Homo sapiens: one gene and its partners. The protein of the gene in region 1 purifies or fractionates together with the protein of each later gene. This does not show direct contact. Each region holds a gene or a part of one and is shown in the gene's direction. Other genes may lie near its edges.

What was found. Proteins that work in one complex are often made in the same cells at the same time.
Region 2: the proteins of ZPLD1 (region 1) and CEACAM8 purify together in Homo sapiens (affinity purification with mass spectrometry; 2 studies listed by BioGRID and IntAct, with this or other methods). This does not show direct contact.
Region 3: the proteins of ZPLD1 (region 1) and STEAP2 purify together in Homo sapiens (affinity purification with mass spectrometry; 2 studies listed by BioGRID and IntAct, with this or other methods). This does not show direct contact.

What each region holds. Positions count from the first base shown.
Region 1 is NC_000003.12:102,473,006-102,480,042, forward strand, and holds the end of ZPLD1 (zona pellucida-like domain-containing protein 1 isoform 2 precursor), read left to right. Parts: intron 1-4,006; coding exon 4,007-4,036; intron 4,037-4,437; coding exon 4,438-4,613; 3' UTR 4,614-6,836; downstream 6,837-7,037. UniProt on the Homo sapiens protein: Glycoprotein which is a component of the gelatinous extracellular matrix in the cupulae of the vestibular organ.
Region 2 is NC_000019.10:42,584,904-42,591,940, reverse strand, and holds part of CEACAM8 (cell adhesion molecule CEACAM8 precursor), read left to right. Parts: intron 1-2,205; coding exon 2,206-2,484; intron 2,485-2,902; coding exon 2,903-3,157; intron 3,158-3,536; coding exon of another isoform or gene 3,537-3,826; exon of another isoform or gene 3,827-4,025; intron 4,026-7,037. UniProt on the Homo sapiens protein: Cell surface glycoprotein that plays a role in cell adhesion in a calcium-independent manner. Mediates heterophilic cell adhesion with other carcinoembryonic antigen-related cell adhesion molecules, such as CEACAM6.
Region 3 is NC_000007.14:90,207,731-90,214,760, forward strand, and holds the start of STEAP2 (metalloreductase STEAP2), read left to right. Parts: upstream 1-4,009; 5' UTR 4,010-4,315; intron 4,316-4,545; exon of another isoform or gene 4,546-4,606; intron 4,607-4,626; exon of another isoform or gene 4,627-4,729; intron 4,730-6,089; exon of another isoform or gene 6,090-6,130; intron 6,131-7,030. UniProt on the Homo sapiens protein: Integral membrane protein that functions as a NADPH-dependent ferric-chelate reductase, using NADPH from one side of the membrane to reduce a Fe(3+) chelate that is bound on the other side of the membrane.

The sequences.
Region 1 (7,037 bases):
TATCTTAAATGGTGGCAGGCAAGAGGGCATGTGCAGAGGAATCGCCCTTTATAAAACCATGAGATCTTGTGAGATTTATTCACTATTATGAGAACAGCATGGGAAAAAAACCCATCCCCATGATTCAATTACCTCCCACAACATGTGGGTATTATGGAAGCTATAATTCAAGATGAGATTTGGGTGGGGACGCAAACCGTATCGTTAGTGTAAAATAATCTTTAAATATACAAAAAAAATTCTAAGACCCCCGAAATCCCAGTAAAGATAAATAAGTAGAAGTCTCTAATTCTAACATAAGTAACCAGCTCTCCAGGTTTATAGGTTTCATCCATCCCACATCCAGTTGCCCAAAATATCTATGTTAACACCACAAAGAGCTATCACAATGCCTCTGATGTCATGCCTGGATTTCTTTCCAATTTTCAACCAGTTTCCACCTCAAGAATGTCACTTATTGCCCAACATGCTAGAGTTTTCTCAGGGTCACCTCAGGTTTCTCCACCAGCAGAGCCCCCAGAGGAGCACACTCATGCTTTCAGGGTCCCCTTGAATCCTCTCTCATTCTCTCTCGAATTATTTTTAAATAATTTTGATAAATACAATTTTGGCGTGGTCTTCTTTGATCATCATGGTGGTCTCACTGCCTAAAGGAACATATACATATAAAGATGTTTACATTGTAATACTATGATATCCATGAAAATATATATTTTTAAAAATTCCACATGAACACAGAACTCAGAACTCAAGCCATATCCATCCACATGCAAATCCTGTGCAAACTTCATGTTCAACTTCATGACCAGAACTACCTTTTTTCCTTAGTTTCACTTTATTTTTACCTTAGGTCAGCTAGAATTTATCTCTTCAGGTCCTGTGGCCAATTTTATATAGATAAATCCAATTTCAGGCTTGATTTGCTCTCTTCAAAGCTCTCTGATGCTTGGAAGTTTTGCTCTATTTGCTCATTGAACCACTCCTTTTCCCTAGACATCTAGCTTAGGTAGAGTTCAGTAAGTTGTTAAACCTGAGAACTCCTGTTTTGTTTTGCTTTTTAATGAAATCAAATCCATTCTGGATATTTTTTACCCAACATAGTTAATAGTTTTGTTACTTGACTTAGGAAAATCTTCACACCCTCATAATGCAACCCCTCAAGAAAAATTTCCTGAAGTGTTCTTATTTAAAACTTCAAAATGCTGAAAGTGCTTGGATAGGGAAATGCTAATCAAAGAGTACAATTCTGGAAATCTAAAGGCACCAACACCAGAAAACAATACCTAATTGTTTTGTTTACTTAAATTCCTGTGGAGAAACCCAAGCCGTATTCTTGTTCGATTAGAATTGCTGAGTTTTATGAGTAGTTAATAATTCATTTGAGCATACTTGTTTGTCCCTTCTTGGGACTGGCACTCGTCTAGGAACTGGGAGTATAGTAGAGAACAGGCCACAGACTTTGTCCTCAGGGATCTTAGAGTTCAGAGGTAGAAACAGACTATGAACGAACGTAACACTGTGAAAAGTAAAAAGGTCGGTGCTTATTAATTTGAGATGTGTGGTCCATTTTACTACATAGGTTATTAAAGTTTTTTAAAAAAAAAACTTTTCTAGTACTAAGAGAAAAAAATTATTCTGCATGTATCTTTGGTGGTCATTTTTAAAATTATTATTTCAACTACTTACATGAGAAAGCAGAGAATGACAATTTGTCTGCCACTTCTGGCTTTCAAATGGCTGTGGCATTGCTGCTATCACCTTTCTCCTATAGGCTTTCAAATAGATAAATATACTCTTGGAGAGCCCCAAAAGTTTGGTATTCCAATCAGTTCTAATTCCAGAAGGCTTCAGGTGTTTCTTTTAGCATATATGTACATGTCAAGACCAAGTGGGTTCAAGGAATAAAAAAGTGTGGTGGGATAAAAGTCTCCTGAAAAAATGTCTACCTTCCCTTTCAAGGCTATACAGTGCTTTGATTTTTTTTGTTTGTTTGTTTTCTTTGCAATAATACAAAAATTGGAGGCTACCAGAAATAGCAACTAGATAAAGCAATTCTCTCTACCTTTATTCACTGTCAAATACAATTCCAAATAGTATTCAAATATCACAGGTTTCGATTTCAACCACCTGCCAAAGGTAGTATGCTTTCATTTTTTCAGAGTCCTGGAACCTGGATTTTGTCGTTCCAGTCTTATTTGGAAAAGGGTGTGTCTTTTCCCCACACACGGAGATTTTTGTCCACAGCGAAGTCCTCATTAATGACAACTGAGATACTGTTTCTATGGAAGTGTTGGTGGTAATACGGGGAGTGCAGGGGACAGTCTGACTTTTGTTAACCTTAGGATGCAGAAAATAGCAGAAAGGGCATCTAGTCATAGCACTCTTGTCTTATTTGAAACACTTATTAGAAAGGAACTTTCTATTTTTTAGTTGAAATATTTTAAAGCAATTAAGTGTGATTTCTAAAAAAAAGAATAGCTTTCAAAAATAAATTTTTAGCATTATATATTCTCCTCCTATGTTCCAGTGAGGCAGCTCATCTTGGGAAAAGAGCACATGGATATTTTGGAAGAATTGATCATAGTCCATTCATCCCACCTGTTTCCATGAGAAGGAAGTGTTATTATAAAGTAGTGTTGGTTAGAGGTTAGGATTTTTCTGAATGTTGTATAATAAAAATGTGTGTTATTTTTCTTTTTGTCCTATAGCGATGCATTGCACCATTCTAAAGAACCCTATGAATGAGTGCTGTATTAATTTTGAGCATTGTACTTCAGAATCAGACAGCAGAACCATCGTTTCTGCCAAGATTCATGTGTCTGAAAAAAAATGGTGTCAGATATTTTATAAATATCTCACCAGGTTCTCCCATTACTTGCTTAAAATACTAATCCTAGAGATTCATAGCTTGAGATATTCATCTTCATAACCAGAAATATTTTTCATATTGGTCAGTTTATATTATTTTAGAAAAAGGCCTCTGAAACTGAGCTTTGTTTTAAGCACATGTTTACTCTGTCATAAAGGCTGTGACAGATGGAAATTTCTTTATCTGTAAAATGGGGGTAGCAATAATATCCAAACCATATGGCTTCTGTGAGGATGAAATGTGATAATATATGAAACAGCAGTTTATGAACTATGTGGTTTTATACACATATTGATTGTAATAATATTTATATTCCAGAAATAAACAGTCAATTGCACGCATTATATGGTTCAAATAACAAACACAAATATTAAAACACAAATATGAAATTACTCTTATTTCAAATATGAAATATGAGCTCGTACAAGCTCCAGGGTTGATAGCAACATGATGACAAATTGGACAACAAAAATTGGGAAATCAAGTAATATGTTTATCGCATCTATTATTGTGTTTGGCAGGGAAAAGTCAAAAATCAACAGCTTCAATCTTTTACTTAACAGATGCAAATAAAACTACAACTCAGGCTCAGGAGTCATGTTTTCCTTTCATATAGTTATTAAGTGTAAATTTATCTTCTTGGAACTTAAAATGATGTGTTTGCAGATTACGTTGGGCAAATTGGCAATACTTAAAATAGAGTGGCACTAAATAATGAATATTCCGTATAACAGAATAACAAATAGCAGGTTATAGGGCCATAAAAAATGTAATAGCTGTTAACGATTACTGCCCCCACCAGCCTGACTGGAGAGCTAATGATGAAACAAAGTTGTCAGGCAAGAAAACAGCACACTGTATATTTTTTTCTATTACATTTGTATACCTAGGGCAGGGGTAGGATGTGGGCTTGGGGAATAGAAAGATGATGAAATCCAGGACATATGAAACAGGGCATGGACAAGCAGAATGGTTTAGGGGGACTTTCATTTTTGCCTTACTCAAGGAGATTATGGGTGGACGTAAGAGGAGATAACAGGTAAAAATGTAGGTACAATGTAATTATTAATCAGAATAAACAAAGGTAAATATTTGGAGAGATGATGTCACTTCTCTTTTTCTGTTTTTTCCCCTCAGATGAGACTCCAACCAACAATTCGCAACTTGGTAAGATAATTAACATATTTTGCAATGTTTTTTACATTTTTGGTGATCAGTTACAAAGCTGTAATCATCTAAGTGTAATGAGCTTGAGTTTTCCAAGTTTGGTCCATTTTAGATAACAGTTCACTGAGGGTTTTCAAACTCATATGTGATCTATTGGTCAATTTTTATAGCATTTGATAGCTTTTTGGTATTTTTGATTTTGGCTGCCCATGGGCAGCCTCTAAACCATACAATCCTTTGGTATTGGGTTGAATTACAGTCAAATAGATTGTAACACAATTCAGTGCCATGCTGCTATTCTATGAGATGCTGATGAAAGATGTTTTGCAGGTAAAATTGGGTCAAGGTGAGATAAATATTATATGGGGCCTTTACAACCGGGTGTGTTTTATTATTTGCAGGTTCTCCAAGTATGCCTCCCTTCCAGCTGAACGCCATCACCAGCGCACTGATATCAGGAATGGTCATTCTGGGAGTTACGAGCTTTTCTCTTCTTCTGTGCTCACTGGCCCTTCTGCACAGGAAGGGACCCACAAGTTTAGTGTTGAATGGCATAAGAAACCCAGTCTTTGACTGACTATAACAGATTCCTGCTCTCTGGAGAAGGCTTCACTGACTAAACTATGTGTGACTGCAGTCAGTGTTCCGTCTGAATTTCATGTCAGTCCACATTCAATATTTGTAGGTTTGATAAATTTCACAGTATAGCTTGTCAGCATAATGATAGTGAAAGAAGTTTATTATATTGCTATTGTCACTTATGTACGTGGCGAGCCGTATTTTTATGCCACCAGTGAATATATTGACAATAAGTGAAAAATATTCAGGACTTAGGGCTTACAGGATCAGTAATATTTCATTTTATTTCAGTTTTCTTTTGATTGTTGGTTAAAAGATAAAAGGTGGGAGTAGACAAAAAATGAAATGTGTTGCATTTCCCCCTTAAGCATTAATGGCATTTAGATTTGCACACGTGGTCCTAGAATAAATGTTGCTTTTTGTTTTAATCCGGATATTCCCAGCTTCAGGATGTGTTTTAATAGGACTGGCCAATTTGGATACCTGAGATTTAACTACTCATTCTATGACCTCCTGTGTTTTTGGCCGATTTTCATGTCTGACCATATTCATTTTAAAAGAAACTCTTGGGACATATCTCTTAACCTGGGGCACCCTTTTGTGTAGAAGATAGTGAAAATAGTTGTTAGCTTCCAAGGCTACTGCTAAGTGGCCCTAGATCATTATTCATTAGAATAGGAATGGCTGCGATCAGTTTTCTTCTTCTGGTTCAGGTGAGAACACCAGCACATGTTAACTCTCCTCCCAGGTAAACAGTTCAGCTGCTGTTGCAGCTGTGCTTCCAGCAGTGAGGTAACTATGCAAAGATTATTTTTAATTCAAGAATCATCACATGTGAAAACAAGCTGTAGTTGTGAAAAGAGTTCCTAGAAGGGTTTTTAACAATTTAGATTCCCTTTTTCCTAAAACAAAAAGGAAACTTAGGTTAAGTGTAGTTTGCAGAACATTGTTGGAATCTACATAAAAAGATATTCCTTCCCCCATATTTTCGATGCCAGGCAATAATCAGGAGAGGGTTTCTTTTTAAGGTATCTTCTTGTAGGTGTCATAATTGCCATGAATAAACAATATTTTCCTCTAACAGTAAACTGCAAGAAGCTTCTGATCCTTTATCAGTTTTGCAAAAAAGCAAGCTTTAAGCAGCCCATGTTCTTACAAAAAAAATCAACATTCTCTTTGTTTAAGCTACCTATGCACTGAACAAACAAAACAATTTAATAGCCAACACCAAAACCCAGCATGTGAAGTTACTAGAATTGCCATGTTAACTATAAGCAATTGCTGTAATCACTAATTTCTATTCAACATTTGTGACCCATTAGTCCGGACTTAATTTACTATACTGCATGCAAATCATCAAGCAATTGCTTCAAAGGAAATGTCTACAATGTGAGTTAATAATTAAATCAATCCTCAAGTTGAAAAACACTTTTTCTCCAATTTGCCTGAATATTTCAGGAGGAAGTGTTTATATTATAATAATTAGCTATATAATTGCATCAACTTTTTATTTCAAGGTATAGTTGCCAAGTAAAGTGGGATCTGGAAAGTCTCTGGATAATTTCTTTACAAAAAAAGTTTAAATCACATAAAAAGCCAATCTACTCTTCCCTGTGTTACTTTAAAATAACTTTGAAGTGACTATTCTGAGCTTTATCTGTGTTAACATGATTAACTGACCATACTACTAATGTGACCCTGTATATACATGGATAGTATTGAAATATGCTGGTAAATCTATTTCAGATACTTTAAGTGAATTGCCATTGATTCTACGATTAAGTTCTGTGAATAGGACATTATATCATTTAAGCTGTTTTGTCAATTTGATTTTTATGCTTTTGGAACGGCTGCTGTTTCAGCTGTTGGCCTTTTCAATTCTATACTCCATTTTATAGAATTGAATAATGGACACATGTCACTTGGGAAGCAACGTAAGTATCACATTATTTTTTGCCACCCTTTCATCATAAATGGAAGAATCAGAGTTATAATGAGATAAACCAGGTCTGTTTTTTACAACTTTGTTCTTATAAATCTGCAGTTATATGGAGTATTTAGTTATACTGAATTTTACAGTTATTATAGTGTGAAAAACCTTACAAAATATGTGCAAATGTTTCTTCAGTTTTAATACCTCAAACTGTTTTTTGCACTTCAGGGGTAAGGTCTGATGACATGTAAAAGATGATCGTTTAATAAAATAATTGTTTAAAATGTTTACCTGTTTTGTTTTTTTTTTAATTTTCTCCTTCCTGCTCTCAACATCCTATTCTTACTTTCACAAATACAGAGGGTCTCCAACTTATGATGGTTACATTTACAATTTTTGACTTTAAGATGGGTTTATCAGGCCATTAAATGCATTGTTGACCTGTGATTTTTTTTATTTATGATAAGTTTTTTGAGACATAACACCATT
Region 2 (7,037 bases), on another chromosome or scaffold:
CTGTCACTCCCATGGGAGGACAAAAGAGAGGACTTTGCTTTCTCTCCCCACTCACACCCTGCACCAGGACAGGCCCAACATGTGACACACACTCGATCGTTCTCTCATGGAGAGGGAATGAATGAGAGAATGAATGATGCAAAACCTCTTTAGAGACTAGATCCTGGATGGCCAGGCAGGTGCTGTCTGATGGGCTTACTGCCTGTTCCACACACATCTGTGTCCTCATGATGGCACCATTGTGATAAGATGGGGTCCTTCAGGTGGGGAGACGCATGAGCCACTGGCGTCTCACTTAGACTCTGTCCAATTCGCAAAAACCTAATCCAATTCTACTTGTGTCTCCCGAGGTCAAGAGAAAATGAAGAAAGCATTGCGCATACCTGTTTTGGGCTCCTCCCAATTTTGCCTAACTCTGCATAGGAATTAGGGGCAGGAAGCTTTCTAAATTTACTAACATAACACACATCGCTTCTCCTAATTTGGCATTGTTCCTCCCTTTATGGAATTGACACACCTAAGACTTCCTCTCTGACCGGTTCTGTCCTCTTAACAGGACTCACGTGCCTCCCTCTACCTGGGAGTTGCTAATTTCAAGCGAACTTCAGGATCTTCCTTTGAGCATAATGTGATCCTGCTGGAATTCACAGGACGCCTAAACCTTATTTTGTTATCAAGAGAAATACTCCTTCCACCAATTGATTTTAGATCTGTGGACAATTAATAGCAATTTCTACTTATGGAAAAAAATTCATGTTTCCTCCAATTTTGTTTTTGACTATAGTCAAAACATAATATCTAAACTCCTGACAAATTTTAAAATGCAAATTAGAGTTACACATTGACCATCAAAAATCCCAAATCTGAAATGCTCCAAAATTCCACATTTTTTGGCCACTAACGTGATTCTCAAAAGAAATGCTCACTGGAGCATTTTGGATTTGGGATTTTCAGATTTGAGATGCTAAACCAGTAAGTATACTGCAAATGTTCAAAAATTTATAAAAGTTAGAAATTCAAAACACTTTTGGCCCTAAGCCTTATGCATAAGAAATACTCACTGTATATGAGCTATAGGCACAAAGCTGTACAGCAGATCTCTAGAACCTCCTCATCCTGTGTAACTGAAACTGCAGACCCATGAACAACTCTCCATTCCCCCCACTCCCAGCCCATAGCAACCACCATTCTACTACGTGATTCCATGAGTGTGACTACCCTAGGAACCTCATGTAAGTGGAATCCTACAGTATCTGTCCTGTCAGTGGCTTATTTCACTCTGTATAATGTCCAGTAGGAGAAAATATTTGCAAAACTTCTTCCCAAATTTCTCTCTCATAACTGTCAAACACCCACGGTCCATGAGGGCCAAATTTCCAGCACTTCAGGCTCCCCCTCCCCACCCGTCAGTTTGCATTTGCAAATGTCCACATGTATTTATGGGAGGATCCACAGCTCCTCATCTGCCCCCCGCAGGGAAAGAAGGGACATTAAAAACCAAGGAAAGGAAACAAGGTTCTGCTCCAAAGCCACCTGTTCTTGCCTGTCCCCTTCACTCCTTCTAGATCATTCCTTGGACTCTGCTCTATCTTTAGAGGTCACTGACTCAAGTAAGTCACGATGAAACACCTGGGAAAAACTGCCCCACCTTGTGGCTCCACTGCCTGACGACGGAACCGACCTCCAGGCTTGCCCCGGCCTCCCCTGTGTTATTTCTGTTGAAACACCCAGTCAGGAATTAAGGATAGTGGCATGTCCCATCATCTCCCATCTCTAGAATGTTCTTGGAAACAGAACCCTCAAAAACACACCTCGAAGGGCAAAGTAGGACTGTGAAGCTGGAAGGGACCCAGCACCTACATGTTCCAGGTGAGGACCCCTAGGTAGGCCAGGCAGGCAGCCGGTCAGGGAGGGACCAGAAGAGGCACCAGGATCTGTAACTCCCAGTCCTGGGTCTGTCCACAACCCAGCGCTGCTGCCCAATTCACATTTGAGAAAGTCTGTGTTTCTCCCACACAGAGAAGGCGGCCTCATGGTCTCTGAGCCCCGATCATTGTGCATCTGTCTTGTGACACACACACCCACCGTGGGCTTTTAAGGACTCGAGTAGGCTGAGAGGTGGGAGATGCCAACTCTAATTGAAATTTGCCTGTGGAGGAATCAAAGGTGCCACACAGGGCAATCTTCTCTCTGTTTTCTGCACAGCGGAGACTCCCAAGCCCTCCATCTCCAGCAACAACTCCAACCCCGTGGAGGACAAGGATGCTGTGGCCTTCACCTGTGAACCTGAGACTCAGAACACAACCTACCTGTGGTGGGTAAATGGTCAGAGTCTCCCGGTCAGTCCCAGGCTGCAGCTGTCCAATGGCAACAGGACCCTCACTCTACTCAGTGTCACAAGGAATGACGTAGGACCCTATGAATGTGAAATACAGAACCCAGCGAGTGCAAACTTCAGTGACCCAGTCACCCTGAATGTCCTCTGTGAGTATCTTCTGTTCCTCTGTGGCCCAGGCCACCAGCCCAAATCCACGCAGCCAGAGGCCAGGCCTCTCAGTCCCTCTCAGCTCCAAAAATGCAGATTCCCCACCCACCCCTAGAAACCCAGCTCGTCATGACTTTCTGCCCCAGGCAAACATGGGTAGGCCTAGCCTTGACCAAGAATAAGAGGGGAGGGGGTGCTCCTGTCATGGGAGACTTGGAGTCCACATCTTCTGATGGGAGAAACAGGTAAATGTCTCGGACTCTGTCTCAGTAGAAACAGCGGGGGTTTGGTTGGGGTTGGTTGGGACTTGGCTCAGGTTTGTGACTTGGCTCAGAGGGACACTGTGGCTCTTCCACAGACCAGGAGCTTCCCCTTCCCTCTGATGACATCACCTGTGACTTTATTCTTTTGCTCTAGATGGCCCAGATGCCCCCACCATTTCCCCTTCAGACACCTATTACCATGCAGGGGTAAATCTCAACCTCTCCTGCCATGCGGCCTCTAATCCACCCTCACAGTATTCTTGGTCTGTCAATGGCACATTCCAGCAATACACACAAAAGCTCTTTATCCCCAACATCACTACAAAGAACAGCGGATCCTATGCCTGCCACACCACTAACTCAGCCACTGGCCGCAACAGGACCACAGTCAGGATGATCACAGTCTCTGGTAAGTGGATCCCTGGAGCACTGGCAGTATGTTTTCTGGTAGAGTCTATCTGGCTTTCAGAGATGAGCCAGAAAAAAAGTTTTATTCCCAGCCTGTGTCCAACAGCACAAGCAAATCCCCAACTTTTCTCCTAAACCCTCCCAGTTTATCTCTATAGACTCTCTTCTGCCTGTTTTTCTGATTTCTCTTGGCTGACCTCGGGGCTGACCTGAGAAACGTGGAGAGGGGCCTTCGTCAGCCCCAGAGCCCTATGTCATGGAAAGGACTTCACCAAGGGGGAAGAAGGAGGGTCCTCAAGGTCAAGTTGCTTTTCTTTGTCACCAACACATGGCACCCCTGTTTCTGTTACCCCTTTGTTTTCTTTTACCTATGCCATTAGCTGCAAGAAACATCCAAGGCTTTGAAACAAGCCCACAACGTTCCCCAAATGGGAGGAGGAGCCCCTTGGATGACGGAGGAGCAGCTCAGACTGCTCCCATCTCTGCTCCCAGCTCCCTGGTGACAGGCCCTGCCCTGACTCCACCTGGGGTGGGACCCAGGTGTATGGAAAAGGTGCTCAGGTGGCCTATCCCAAATCTGGCTAAATCAAGTTGCCAGTTGAAGCCAAGCCTCCCCCCAGTCAGGCTGCACAAAAATGGGAAGACAGGGAGCCTCCGGGAAGACTCCTGAGCAGTGTCCTAGCTCTGAAGTCACGGGCTGCATGAGGCTGTGGATACAACACAGAGGACAGTGAGTGATGCACACTTGGAGACACAGGGAGATTCAGCCACAGGGTCTCTGCATGAGAGGGAAGGGGTAGTGCCAGTTGCCCAGGCTGGAGTGCAATGGCACTATCTCGGCTCACCCTCCGCCTCCTGGGTTCAAGCAATTCTCCTGCCTCAGCCTCCCAAGTAGCTGGATTACAGGCATGTGCCAACACGCCCAGCTAATTTTGTATTTTTAGTAGAGATGGGGTTTCTCCATGTTGATCAGGCTGGTCTCGAACTCCCGAACTCAGGTGATCCACCCGCCTTGGCTTCTCAAAGTGCTGGGATTACAGGCATGAGCCACCACTCCCAGCCACCATTAACTATTTCTATGCGTGCAATTTAGTGTTATGTAACCATCACCACCATCCATTTCCAGAACTTTTTCATCTTACCATATTAAATAAACTTCTCTGCCCAATAAAGAGTAACTCTCACTCCTTCTCCCTCTAACCCCTGGCAACCTCCATTCTACTTTCTGTCTCTATGTAATTGATTATTCTAACAACCTTATATAAATGGAATTATATAATAGGTGGCCTTTTGTGTCTGGCTTGTTTCACTTAACATAATGTTTTTAAGGTTCATCCATTTTGCACCATGTATCAGAATTTTCTTCCTTGTTAAGATTGAAGAACATTCCATTGTATGGATACACCTCACTTTTCTATCCACTTATCTTTCAATGGACTTTGCAGTTGTTTCCACCTTTTGGCTATTGTGTGACTAATGCTGCTGTGAACATCAGTGTACAAATATCTGTTCAAATCCCTTCCAATTCTCTTGCATATATGTCCAGAAGTGGAATTGCTGGATCCAATGGTAATTCTTTGTTTAATTGTTTGAGAAACAGCCATACTGTTTTCCACAGTGGCTATAACATTTCACACTTCCATCAGCAATGCACTAGAGCTCCAATTTTTCCACTTCCTTAAAAACACTTGTTGTTTGTGTGTGTGTGGTTTTTTTTTAATCAAAGCCATCCTAATGTGTTTGAGGTATTCTATCATTGGGGTTCTGATTTGCATATCTCTAAGTATCAGTGATGTTGAGCATCTTTGCATGTGCTCATTGGCCATTTGTATATCTTCCTTGGAGAAATCTCTATTTCAGTCTTTTGTCCTTTTTTAGTTGGGTTTTTGGATTTTTGCTGTTGTGGATTTGTAGTAGTTCTTCATATACTCTGAAAATTGATCCCTTATCATACATGATTTACAAATATTTTTCCCACTTCAAGGTTGCCTTTTCACTTCCTCGACAATGTTCTTTGATATATAAAAGTTATTGATTTTCATGAAGTCCAACTTACCCATTTTTTCTTTTGTTGCCTATGCTTTTGTTGTTATAACCAAGAAACCACTGTGAAATCCAATGTCATGGAGTTTTTTTCCCTGTGTTTTCTTCTGAGAGTTTTATAGTTTTTACTCTTACATTTGGTCTTTGATCTACTGTGGGTTAGTTTTTTGTATATGGTGTCAGGTAAAGGTTCAGCTCATCTTTCTGCATGGATTTCCAGCTTTCCCAAAATCATTTGCTGAAAAGACTGCACTTTCCCCATTGAGTGGTATTGGCATCCTTATCAAATATCATTTGGCCATATATGCAAGCATTCCTTTCTGGGCTTTCTGTTCTATTCCGCTGGTTTCTGTCTTCCTTTACGCAAGTACTGCATTGTATTGATTACTGTGGCTTTGTAGTAAATGCTGAAATCAGGATTCAGCATTTTTTTTTCAAGGTTCCTTTTTTCATGATTGGTTGGCTATTTTGAGTCCTGAAATTCCATATGAACTTTAGGATAGATTTTTCTATTTCTGCAAAAAAATGTCATTGGAATTCTGATAGAAATTGTGTTGAATCCATAGCTCACTTTGGGTGGTATTATCCTCCTAACAATACCGTGTCTTCCAATCCATGAAAACAAAATGTCTTCCCATTTTTTGAGGTCGTATTTAATTTCCTTCAGCAATGTTTTCTAGTTTTCAGAATACAATCCTTTCACCTCCTTGGTTAAACTTATGCCTAAGTATTTTATTCTTTTTGATGTTAATGTGAATTAAAATTTTTTTCTTAATTTCCTTTTTAGATTGTTCATTGTTAGTGTATAGAAATGCAACTGATGTTTGCATGCTGATTTTGTATCCTGCAACATTACTGAATTTATTAATAAATTCTAACAGGTTTTTTTCATCCTTAGAGTTTTCTACAAAGAAGTTCAAGTTGTCTGTGAACAGACAGATAATTTTACTTCTTCTTTCCAATCTGAAAGTCTTCTTTTTTTCTTGCCTAATTTCTCTGGCTAGGACTTGTAATACTATGTTAAATAGACGTGGCAAAAGCAGGCATCCTTGTCTTGTTCCTGATCATAGGGGGAAAGCTTTCAGTCTTTCTCTATTGAGTATGATGTTAGCCTTGGGCTTTTCACATACTGCCTTTATTATATTGAGATAGTTTCCTTCCATTCATACTTAGCATGTTTTTATTAAGAAAGAATGTTGAATTTTGTCAAATGAAATTTTTATTCAATCTTCCTACTAATTATAGGTCTATTCAGATTTTTTGTGTGTGTTTCTTGGAATTTGTCCATTTCATCTAGGCTATCCAATTTATTGGCATACAATTATTCATAGTACTTTTGTAAACAATATTTCTCTAGAATTGATATATAATATCTCCATTTTCTTTTCTTTCTTTCGTTTTTTTTTTGTTTGTTTTTTTTTTTTTTTTGAGAGAGAGAGAAAGACGAGTCTCACTCCTTAGGTCAGCCCAGGCTGGAGTGCAGAGGTGCGATCAAAACTCACTGCAGCCTCAACCTCCTGGGCTCAAGCAATCCTCCCAACTCAGCTTCCCAGGTAGCTGAAACTACAGGTGCATACCATCATGCCCAGCTGAATTTTTGTTTTAATTTTGTAGAGACAGGGTCTCCCTATGTTGCCCCAGCTGGTTTCAAACTCCAGGCCTCAAGCAATCCTCCCAATTTGCCTTCCCAAAGTGCTGGGATTGAAGGTGTAAGCCACCATGCTGGGAGTCCATTTTCATTTCTGATTTTAGTAATTTCCATCTTGTCTCTTTTTTTCTTAGTCAGTCTAGTTAATGGTTGGCAATTTTGTTGATCTTATTTTGAAGAACCAACTTTT
Region 3 (7,030 bases), on another chromosome or scaffold:
CTTCCTTAATCAACTTAAACAAATACAAATAATAAAATTCAGTGTCAATGAGATACTGAATCTAAAAGATAAAAGTACATCCATATTTTTATAATGATTTTTCAATTGTTATGGAAAGAAATATGAGACTATGTAAACAGAAAAAATAAAATTTCTTTTAATTAAAAAACCCACATTAAAAAATATATCCCAAGAAAATATTCCCATCACTTATTACTCCAAAGAGTAATTTGTTCAAGGAGGTTAAAGCAGTGTTACTTATAATAGTTAAAGAATCAGAAAATGTACTTTCCTAAAATTTAGGGTTAAGAAAACTATTCTAGGCCAAACACAGTGGCTCACACATGTAATCCCAGCACACTGTGAGAGGGATGGGTGATGTGGGAAGATCACTTGAGCCTAGGCATTTAAGACCAGCCTGGGCAACCTAGGGAGATCCCCTCTCTACAAGTAATAAATAATTAGCTGGGTGTGGTGGCGTGTGCCTGCCTGTAGTCCAGCTTCTGGGAGGCTGAGGCAGGAGACTCACTTGAGCTCAGGAGGTTGAGGCTGCAGTGAGCCTTGACCATGCCACTGCACTCTAGCCTGGATTACAGATTCAGACCCTGAAAAAAAAGAGAAAGGAAGGAAGGAAGGAAGGAAGGAAGGGAGGGAGGGAGGGAGGGAGGGAGGGAGGGAGGGAGGGAAGGAAGGAAGGAAGGAAGGAAGGAAGGAAGGAAGGAAGGAAGGAAGGAAGGAAGGAAGGAAGGAAAAACTAGTCTATACCAATATATAAACTATATAGCCATTAAGAATTATAAGACTTTAGAACATGTTGATCTCTGGAAATATGTTTATGAAATAATGTTAATTATAAATATGTGTTTTGTACAGATGTACATTCAAGCATTTTAATAGATTTATAAATCCTTGTGTATCATTTTGTGTTCAAACACAGCGTATTTCTTTTTTTAATCATACTTAAACAATTTATTTTTTATTTCAATAGTTTCTGAGGAACAGGTGGCTTTTTGTGACATGAACAAATTCTTTTGCAGTAATTTCTGAGATTTTGGTGTACCCATCACCAGAGCAGTGTACACTGTACTCAATACGTAGTATTTTACCCCTCACCCCACTTCCCCCTGGAGCCCCCAGACTCCACTATATCATTCTGATGCCTTTGTGTCCTCATAGCTTAGCTCCAGCTTATGAATGAGAACATATGTTTGGTTTTCCACTCTGAGTTATTTCACTTAGAATAATCATCTCTAATTCCATCCAGGTTGCTGAGAATGCCATTATTTTGTTCCTTTTTATGGCTGAGTAGTATTCTGTGGTATATATATACTATATTTTCTTTATCCACTCGTTGGTTGATGGACATTTAGGCTGGTTCCATATTTTTTGCAATTGTGAATTGCGCTGGTATAAACATGTGCAAACACAGTCTACTTCAGATTATATTTACATGTATAAATCTATTGATGTATATTAATGTACATTGACAAATAAATGTAAGGTGATGTTAACAGAATTTCATGTTTATTGAATTCTTTGGTTTTAAAACAAAGCAGCATTTCACAAAAATTATTCTATTTTATTATAAGCACTGCTTACAAACAAATTTGTTCAAAACAAATTTGGGGGTTTGGGGAATAGGTTAGGTAAAATGTTTTTACCATAGGAATTTTCAGAGCCTTTAATTTATTAACATACATTGTGGATCTCTAAAATGAAGAGATTTCTCTTATTGTTTATCTCAAAATCTACTATTTACATCACGACTTACATTTATTTTGTGTAAATAAATCTGCATAAATCTTATTTGCACTTGTTACTAATTTATCGTTTTCACCAAACTGTAACTTCTATCAGGACAGGTAAATATATCTGTCTTCTTCACCACTGTTCCTAGAGTGCCAGCCAGGGCATATAGAAGTGGCTCAATATTTTTGAAGTGAATGACTTGCTAGAGCAGCATTTAGGCAAACTAGTGCCTAAAGTCACACATTTTGGGAACTACCACTCTAAAGTTATTTAATTGTATAATAACTTCAAAGGAAAAAAATGTGTTAATGCCCCTAGGCCACTAGAGATCCATTTAATAATTATTGCTTCGCTTCAGTTGAGTCACTTACTACTTTAGGGAACAGAAGAGATTTCTCAGAGAGCACCTCATGACCTGGAAAAGTCTTGCAAAATCATTTTCATACTCTGCATCTCCAGCTGAAAAACAATGATAAAATTAGTTACCATGGAAGTTAAAGGAATCATGCTTTGCATTAACACCAACAGTCTTCTGGAACACATTTGGTAACATTAGATTTCCCATCAAAGATATTTGTTTATTTTAATAGTTCAAGCATGAAAAAGAGATATCCCTTTTGGAAGCTGCAAATTGTTGACTCACTGATTCTCATTTAGGAAAAGGGATTTCACATTACTTTATCTATTTTCTCAATAGTCAAAGCCCATGTTAAGAGAGCTTTTAAACATATTTAAAATATATGGCTTACCTACATGTTTTACATGATAATTTATGGTTATAGAAGTTAGAAAGTGCAATTTCTTTTAATATCCCCGTGGGGAAGTTATATAATTCTATAGTTTTTTAAAATATATGGAAAAGCAATATACTTTCCGTTAACTGCTAAGATTCATGAATTTTCTCCACAAGTTCTCCAGAGGAACTACTAGAAAAAACTCCACGAATCTCATTATTTGACAGTTTTGTTGAAGTGAAATTATTAAAATTGATATTAGATTTAATGACTTGTTTCCAGTAACCAAAATGGAAAGTATTCTACCAGCTGTCGATGGTTCCACACCCTGACACATCGTTAAAACCTTAGCTTCTGCCTAAACTTTAAACCTTAATAATATTTGGCGGTAGGGGAGGGGTTACATTTCAAGTCAAACAAAGGATGTATTTCCAAAGCAGCATTTACAAAGGTTAATCTGTGTATGGACTACAAAGGGGAAAGTGCAGTGCCCCAGTGATCGATCTAAGACCCCCCTCTCGTTGTTGTTGTTGTTGGGTTTTTTTGGTCTGGTTAATAAACCACCTAGAGGGATAATTTTTAAACTTAATTTGTTGAAATGGTACTTTACTAATGTATGAAAAAAATTTCCCCAAATTTGAGAATTTTTGGTAAGTTGATTTTATATTTGGGAATAAAGATCTCTTGCTTCTTCTACTGACACCTTCTACACAAAAGATAAAAGGTACTTTTACTTGGTAATCCGCAGGGAGAAAATTTACAGAAACCCAGAGCCAAAGGTGCTCTCAGGGGATCCCCTGAAACATTCAAAGCCATTGCGGCCCCAGAAGGTAAATGGCTTTCGCAGGAACACAGGTCTCCTGACTCACGGCCTAACCTTCCTTTCCCCCACACCAAAGCTCGCGCGGCACCAGCTAGAGTGAAGGTCAAAGTCAACAGAATAATCTCTGCAGTCCAGGGTCTGTGAGGGTCCTCCTATCCGAGGGAGTTTTCATGAAAGGGCATTTCCGAACATTTTATTCCAAGGACACAGTCTAGTCAAAAGACGTTTGGGATAGGGTAAACATGAGGCAAAAGAACACTTACAAAAGAAAAAAGCGCAGTTTCTTGGAGGCTTGTCAGAAGCTAAGACTGGGGAGATGAGAACCAGGGCCCTTGGCGAGAGTTGGGGTGGGAATCGCGTAAGAAAAGCAATTTCTAGAGCGGAAAGGTGACCCCACATTACAAAAAGAAATGGAGTAGAAAAATAGGCTTGACTATTCTAAAGCTGCTTCAGAAAGAATCTCCGGAAGACCACGGAGGAACCCCGCAGGGGAGCCAGGCGGATACTCAGCCGCTCGCGGTAGAAGGGCGCGCAAAGCTGCGGAGCCGCGTGTGTGGAGCTCCCCAGTGCACTCACTGCTGGCTCCCCCTCGGTGCTCTGGGCCCTTCCCAGCTCCCTCCACACAGCCCGGCTCCCTTCACACACCCCCGCCCCCTCCGAGCTCCCCGACTCCTCCCCGCGCTCCACGGCTCTTCCCGACTCCAGTCAGCGTTCCTCGGGCCCTCGGCGCCACGAGCTGTCCGGGCACGCAGCCCCTAGCGGCGCGTCGCTGCCAAGCCGGCCTCCGCGCGCCTCCCTCCTTCCTTCTCCCCTGGCTGTTCGCGATCCAGCTTGGGTAGGCGGGGAAGCAGCTGGAGTGCGACCGCCGCGGCAGCCACCCTGCAACCGCCAGTCGGAGGTGCAGTCCGTAGGCCCTGGCCCCCGGGTGGGCCCTTGGGGAGTCGGCGCCGCTCCCGGGGAGCTGCAAGGCTCGCCCCTGCCCGGCGTGGAGGGCGCGGGGGGCGCGGAGGTGAGCGGGTCGGGGAGGAGCGCGAAAGAAGGTAGCGGCGGCGGAGTTGAGGGTCAAGATGCAGTCTGCGCCACGCGCTGCATCCATCCTCCCCGATTCTGCGCCCTCACCGGGCGTCCGCCCTGAGCTGCGGGGTCCCTCATCTCCTGGCACCTTAAGGTGGAAAGTGAGAAGGGTGGAGAAGGGTGTCTGTTCCACTGATTCCCCCTCCTCCTCCTCTTGGTTCCTAGAGCTAAGGGCAAGTCCTGAGGTTGGGCCCAGGAGAAAGAAGGCAAGGAGACATTGTCCCAGGTAGGATGTGTCCCAGCAGGAAAGGACAGGCAGGTTACTTTCGCCCCCTTGATAGTCTCCCTGCTACTTTGGGTTGATGCAGGGCATTTCATGGAAGATCATGCAGTGCTGCTTTGCGAACAGGTATTTCTAGCAGTCATTTGGTTTATTTCCCAGTAATGTAATCGTGGTGTTTAGGCCATTTCTGTTAGAAAGTAATTGGCCTCTTCTTTGACTGTCCTAAATTATCTTTGAACCCTGTGTTCAGCCTCAGCCAAAACTTGTTGAAAATTATGCCCTAAAAATCTTGCTCTTAAAATAGAGCAGAGAGATAAAGAGCATTTTTGTTGGAAGATTTCCATTTATTATCTCTCCCACCCCGTGGAGAAGGATTGGTGTCAGTTTTTACTCCTCGGGCAGTTAGTTTTTTAGATGGAAAGACAGTCCAGGCCATAGTTAATTATCGCTCATCAGTATAGGAGAAAAAGAATTCAGACTCCTGCCCCACCCCCACCCCCACCCCCAACCTCCTGACTTAGATTCTGGTCCTTTTAACAGCCCCGCTGCTTGGAACCCTTTTTGTTTTCTAAACCACCTCCCCATCCTTCCTTTTCTCCACTTTATTATTTCTTCATTTTATTGATCTGTTTATTTTTTCTTTCTTTAACCCTATAATTTTTTTACTCCGATTCTCTCTTGGTTGCTTCAAAGCTTAGAGGCTATTTAATGGAAAAGCAAAACAAAACAAAACAAAACACCCGTCCTAAATAATTTGCAGGATGTTTAGAAACATAAAGAGTAACTATGTGTGCTGCCATTGGGATGGCTGCACTCTCTGCCTCTTAGCTAGTCACTCTGTCAGGGTATGGGGAAATGAGACAATATTGAGAATGACAACTTGAGCAAATTGTGCAGTAAGGAAATGAAAAGCTTTATCCAAGTCACTTTTTATTGTACTGGTGCTATGGAAAATGTGGTGAATGAACATAGTTGTATTTTAGTACTGAAAAAACAGGACAGGTGAAGACAAATTTTTAAAGAAAGGATTGTAAATGAGTTAGAAAAGTGAGAAAGAAGATACACCAAAAATGTGAAAGAGTAAGACTGCAGGCGTGATAAAGGACATAGGACATCAGGAGATGTATTTATCCCTGCTGGGCCAGAAACCAGGACATTGAGGTAACTGAGACATTAACATAACAATAACATTGATAAATCACCTACCCCTTAAGGGCCCACATGTGTTTTCAGCAAAAAGAGAAATCTGATCTAGAGAATTATTACATGTCTTTTTGTCCTGAATTTTTTTGATGTATTCCATAACAAAGAATTTTTATTGCATCCTTAGTTACACTGCCAGCCAATGTGGAGGCAGTGATCACGGACAAGACAAACATGGTTCTTCCCTCGTGCAGTTTATTGTCCAATGGGGGAAATAGTAAACAGTAAAGAAACAATTATATAAAATATTACAAAATAAATTTAACAAGGGCTGAGTGAATTATTCTGCTATAGAGATGGAACAGTATATGGAAAGCTCCCAAGGTACATAAAGTGGTTGTTGTTTTCTCTTTCTAGAAGAGAATGCTGTGGGTGGACAATATACAGATAAGGTTAGAGAGGGGAAGCGGGGACTAACTCATTCAGGACCTTTTACGTGATAGTCAGGAAGATGGCTGTAGTTCTAAGTACAAGGAGCACCGATTTTAAGGAGAGACATTTTATGACGATTTACATTTTAAGATGATTTTAGCTGCTGTGGAGATGTTTGGAAAGGGTCAAAAGAGAAAGTAGGCTGACCCATTAGGAAATGTTTGCAGAGTTCAGGTGAGATGATAGACACCTGGACTAGCCTGGTATTGGTGGAGAGGGATTTATGAAATATGTTGGAGAACAGGAATTGGTGCAGGATTTTATGTCAAAAGTGAGGGTCAGCAAGGACTTAAGAATGACTCCCAATTTTCTGATTGGAGCAACTGGTGGATAATGGTGGCATTTACACATTTCCAGGCGAATGGGACCAGCTCTGGGTGGAAAAAGTTCAGGTTTGAACCTGTGAAGTTTGAGATGTCACAGAAAGAGGTCATAACCATATCCCCTTGGGAAGCAAAAAGGGAGGCTCTCCAGGACATAAGTGGATAGACTGGTCTTTGATAGGTAAAATTGGTGATTGTTAATTTAAGGTGAAACTAATGAGCTCAGTTTTCTGGTTTTTCTCCAGCAACCTTCACCAACGTGGATACAGATACAGAGAAAATGGATAGCTGGGTCCAGGACTAGAGTTTTGCCAAGCAGATATGATGGAGAGTAAGAGAGCTGAGGATCTTTTTAAGGGAGTGACTACAAATCTAGCCTCGGTTTAAAGAGAAACCAGAGCAGGCTGAAGGAGAGTGCAGGATATTAAGCAATTAGAGAGGTAGAGGTCAACGGATCAGATTTCTTTTG